Regions from separate parts of the Homo sapiens genome. Here region 2 is linked to region 1. Evidence: fine-mapped QTL for protein levels in blood plasma. Region 1 holds a variant in brackets. A gene starts in the other region. All regions are shown on one strand. Distances are between the middles of the regions. Region 1 overlaps ALPL (alkaline phosphatase, biomineralization associated). Region 2 holds the start of TINAGL1 (tubulointerstitial nephritis antigen like 1).

Evidence for each region. PIP is the posterior inclusion probability: the model's chance that the variant is causal. The UK Biobank Pharma Proteomics Project read protein levels with antibody pairs (Olink). The fine-mapping took linkage between variants from a reference panel, not from the people measured, so its PIPs are less certain.
Region 2: it holds the start of TINAGL1, and the variant in region 1 is fine-mapped to the plasma level of the TINAGL1 protein (UK Biobank, PIP above 0.99).

The regions. Positions count from the first base shown.
Region 1 is chr1:21,560,887-21,562,955 of GRCh38, reverse strand. It overlaps ALPL (alkaline phosphatase, biomineralization associated), which reads right to left. Exons shown (of 12, transcript NM_000478.6): 4 at 1,744-1,859. Among named protein-coding and RNA genes, the nearest start is that of LINC02596, 25 kb to the left of the region's middle. The variant C/T (reference allele first, on the strand shown) is at 1,303.
Region 2 is chr1:31,575,190-31,578,197 of GRCh38, reverse strand. It overlaps TINAGL1 (tubulointerstitial nephritis antigen like 1), which reads right to left and starts at 1,683. Exons shown (of 12, transcript NM_022164.3): 1 at 1,603-1,683; 2 at 740-1,064. The coding sequence starts at 1,049. It overlaps LOC105378626 (a long non-coding RNA gene), which reads left to right and starts at 301. Exons shown (of 6, transcript NR_188671.1): 1 at 301-354; 2 at 2,528-2,788. RefSeq lists an enhancer at 1,152-1,872.

The DNA of each region.
Region 1 (2,069 bases):
CCACAGGACTACCTAGCTGCCTGCTTCCTGCCATCATTCCCTGCACCCTGGCAGCACTGGGGCAGGACCTTAGCTCTCCAAAGTACAGAGAAGTGTCCGGCGGAAGATTGGGGCTCAGGTGGGGTCAGCGGAGGCCTCTCTCCGGGCCTGGGGCTGCAGGAGCCAGCAAGGGGTTGGGGAGCAGGGGAGTCCTGGAGAAGGGAGAGGGAGGGGCCTTCTTGAAGGAGTGGGGGGTCTGGGGATAGGGTAGTGAAAGTGAGGGGGAAGGGGACTGGGGAAGGGAAGGGTGGGGCCAAGACCAGCGCTGACTTCTCTGCCACCTGCCCTGCGGCCACCATCACAGGGTTGCCCTACATCCGGATGTTTAGCAGAGACCCCAAAACTATTTGCCTGTCTCCCTTCCCCACCAGCCTGAGAGCACCTTGAAGGCACAGAAGGCACCATAGTCCCCACTACTCCCCCAGAAGTGAGCCTGGGGCCTGACCCAGGGTCTGGAGGTTATTACATAACACCACTATCACCACCACCAATAGCAATAGCTACCCGGCAGTGCACACTGCCTTGAACAACCTAGGTCAGTACAGGCACACCTCATTTTAGTGTACTCCACAGACACTGTGTTTGTTACAAATTGAAGATCTGTGGCAACCCTGTGTCAAGCAAGTCTATCAGCATCATTTTTTCCAAAAACATGAGCTCACTTCATTAGCGTTTTTTAGCAATAGCATATTTTTAAATTAAGGTATATACATTTTTTTAGACATAATGCTATCCCACACTTAAAAGACTACTGTAGGGTGCAAACATAACTTTTATATGCACTGGGAAACCAAAAAATGTGTGACTTGCTTCATTGCAATATTTGCTTTATTACAGTGGCCTGGAACCAAACCCGAAGTATAGCTGAGGTATGCCTATAGTCTAATTAACTTCACGAACTGCCTCGGGAAAGAATGAATGAACTGGAACTTCATGCAAAAGTGTATACAGGCCAGGCACGGTGGCTCATGCCTGTAATCCTAGCACTTTGGGAGGCCAAGGTGGGCAGATCACCTGGGGTCAGGAGTTCGAGACCAGCCTGGCCAACAGGGTGAAACCTTGTCTCTACTAAAAATAAAAAAATTAGCTGGGCATGGTGGCGCATGCCTGTAATCCCAGCTACTTGGGAGGCTGAGGCAGAAGAATCACTTGAACTCGGGAGGCAGAGGTTGCAGTGAGCTGATGTCATGCTACTGTACTCCAGCCTGGAAGACAGAGTAAGACTGTCTCAAAAAAAAAAAAAAAAAAAAGGCATATATAGGC[C/T]GTGCATGGTGGCTCACGCCTGTAATCCCAAGACTGGGAGGCCAAGGCTGTAGGATCGCTTAAGCCCAAGAATTAGAGACCTTGGGGGGGTCTCTAATTATCCATATGTGGTGGTACACACCTGTAGTCCCAGCTACTCGGGAGGCTAACGTGGGAGGATGGCTTGAGCCCAGGAGTTGGAGGCTGCAGTGAGCTATGACTGCACCACTGCACTGCAGCCTGGGCAACAGAGCAAGACCCTCTCTCTAAACACACACCCGCAAGCAGGTACAGTGATGCTATGGTGTCAGAAGTCAGGGCAGTGGCTGCTCCAGGTGGGGAGTGGGCTTGGGCATGGAGGGGGCTCAGGGGGTCAGGGGACCTCTGGCTGCTGTCATGTTCAGATGCTCGACCTGGATACTGGATATACAGACCTGAACTGGGCTTGGGGATGGGGCTCACCTTGGAGAGGGCCACGAAGGGGAACTTGTCCATCTCCAGCCTGGTCTCCTCCCCAGGGTTGTGGTGGAGCTGACCCTTGAGGATGCGGGCAGCCGTCACTGTGGAGACACCCATCCCTGCAGTGGGGAGTGGGGGCCTCAGTCTCTCGTGCTCCTGCCTCTCCAATCAGCCTGCTTGGGTACCCAGAAGCTCTCTAGTTCGGTACCAAGGCAGGCTCGGGCAGTTGGCACTGGGCATGGCTCTGTAAATGTCAGTGAGCAGCCCCTCTCTCCCTTCACCCCCAGATCCTCAGGGGGCTGTCTGGCAGAGCAGGCCTCTTGAATCCA
Region 2 (3,008 bases), 10 Mb before region 1:
GTCACACACCAACTGCTGTTTGGGAAGTTCTTCAATGATTCCAACCTGGATTCCTCTTACTTTACTTGGATGCCAGCCACAACATTCCTGGGATCCTTTTCCATTTAAATAAGTTAGGGCTTGGAGATGGGGAGTGGGAGGAGCATGGGGAAGCCAAGGCCCAGAGAAGGTAAGCAACCGTCCTAAGATAACACAGCACTCTTGAGATGACAGCTCAGGTATGCAGTCTGCCGGCCCAAGCCCCATGGAACTGTGGGAAGGAACGCAAGTGATTCTCCTATTGGACAGGGGCAAGTGCATGGAAAAGGATGATGGTGAGGCTGAAAGCAGGAAAAGATTTGACCCATCTCCCAGGTATGAGCAGCCATCTCGGGGCACAGGATCCTAGAATCCTCAGCAAAGGCAGAAAAATGGCTAAGATGACCCTCACCAACCCATATGTGCCTTATCAGCCCAAGAGTGAGTCAGCAGGTGCGGCCAGCACCTTCCGTGTCTGGAAAAGAGACAGGATTGGGAGAAAATGTGGGAGGTTGCCCTTTCCCTGGGCCAAATTAGAATTCTAACCAAGGAGCTTCTTCAGTCTTGCTGGAGAGTAAAGTTCCCAGAGGGGCAGGGAAGAGTCCCAGATTCTACAGAGCTTCCCCTGGAAATGTCAGTGCATCCATCAGCTTTGCTCTTGAGCCTTGCTGAGTCTGAGGTGGACAAAGTGACCCACCCTCCTGGCCATCTTAGTGCCCACCTTGGATCGGGGGAAAAGGGGGTGGCACGCCGAGGCAGAAGTCCCAGAAGTCAGGGCAGCAGTCGGAGACCGTGCGGTTGCAGAAGAGGTCACAGTAACAGATGGCGCCCAGGTAGGGCAGGGCACAGTCGTCGGCACGGCCGCGGCAGCACAGGTCCTGCTCCTGGCAGTACCGGCCTCCCGCGTCCCGGATGCCCCGCAGGTGCAGACCCGGTGCTAGCTCCCGGCGCCCACGACCCTGCTGGGCACCCAGAGCCAAGTGGCCAGCCAGCGGCAGCAACAGCAGTAGCCCCAGTGGACATCGCCACATGGTGGCTCCTGGGCCCTGGGGGGCAGAGATGGTGGGCAGCAGAGACTCCCTGGAACACCAGGGATGAGTCTCCCAGTTTCCTGGAGCTGTGAGTTCAAGAGGGCCCAGCAGGGAGGGAGATCCCGATTCCTGAGTCCCCAGGCAGGACACGGGCAGAGGAGCCCCAGTGTGTGGGCCCTGGCTATAGGGGGATGGGGACTGGGCAGAAACGGAGCCCCTCCCTGACCTAGGCAGGGACCTTCAAGGACAAGGAAATGAGGGTGGTGGCATTCTTGGTGCTCCCACCCAACACTCATCCTGTGGACCCAAGGTCTTCTCTCCTGTCCTAGGTCTCTCTGCCCTCCAGCAGCCTCCATCCCTGACCTGGGTCCTTGACTTTGTGCTTTCCTGTCTCCCCCGGTCTTTTGGGTACACCTCTCTTCTGTTCCTGTGTCCCTCTGTCCCCCTCCACTGTCCCTCTCTCTGCCATCTGTCTTGGTTCCTCTACCTGCCCCCTCCCCCTGTTTCTTCTCTGTCTACACCTTCCGCCCTCTGAGCAGGGGAGCGTCCCTACCTGGTGAAGGTGTGGGCTGGGGCCCAGGCTGGCCCGCGCGCCTCCGCCTCCTGGCTCTGCGACCGCCGGACGCTCAAAGTCAAGAGAGGAGCGCGGGGCGGGGCGCTTTTTGTACCGCCCGCCCTCTGCACCGCCCCAGCAGTGGCGGAAGGGAGGGGCGCCTGGCTTGTACCTGGAGTAACTACCCCACAACTCATGGGCTTGCAGGGTGGAGAAACGACAAGCACACGATTGTCCTGGCTGGGTCTCCTGTGGCGGAAGCCGTTCCCTTAGGGGAACCCCAAGCAGGAAGGATTGCGGTTTCACACTGGGAAGGACTTCACAGTGGGCATCCCTGTGGAGCTGAGGGGCTCTGGTGGAGAAGGGGGGATATGGGCAGCCGAGCTCTGGGTTATGGACACAAGTTTGGGAAATGATGGGGAGGGCATGTGAGGCAAAATTCTGTAAGCCTCTCCTGACCCCTCGGTAATAAAAATAGCCATGCACACCCCTCTCCACTGTGCCCCCTAGGCTTGGGTGCCGCCCCCCTAGCCACCCCAGCTCCTAGGAATGATTGGAATTCCAGGAGTATGATCCTTAGGTGCCCTGGGCGGCTCATCCCTGGGAGGTGGGCAGGGTGTGGGGGTGGCCTCTGCACCCTTTGATCCCTTGTTGAGTCTGCCTTCCCTTGCCTGCTTGGGCCCCTAGACGAGCACTGCCCTCTCTAGCAAACCCAAGGGCATCCTGCTTGGCACCTGTCCCCCTCCAAGGGTCCAAAGGCAAGGGCCCTACCAGCTGGCACCCCCTGCAGAGGCCCTCCTTCCTGCCGCAGGCATAAACCTTTCTTTGCCCAGGCTGGCCTGGGACCCAAACAATGGGGCTTCTGTCCCGCCAGGTCTGCCGTCACCTTTTACCTCCCTATTGTGCAACGCCCTCTCTTCAACAGGTTGGGCCCAGGCCAGAGGTCTCTACCAGCAAAGAGGATAAAAGAGACTACACCTGGACAAACCCTCCCAGGCCCAGGCCTGAGCCTCACATGTGGCCCCGGGGAAGGCATCAGGGACTCCCTTTGCCCTCCCACTGACCTCCCTGCAAACCTCCCCCAAACCAAGGGGCATCCTCAGCTGGCCAGACCCTGGGGGAAGGGAGAGAGCCGAGGATCACCGGCACCTGTGGCTGGGTTACCCCTGCCATGGACCACTGGGTGGTGAGTCACCAAGGGGGTCCTGCCCTGGTGGTGGGGGTGGAGGGATAATATCCGGGGGCCCCAGCACTGGCACTAACACACCCAGGAGCTGCCCATCTGCTCCCTGCAGGGACCTGGGAGGACAAAGCCTAGGTGGGAAACTGAGGCTCAGAAGAATGCACTTGCCTGAGGTCGTGCAGCCAGAACACAGGCTCCCTGCCTGCCACCAGCCCACTCCTTT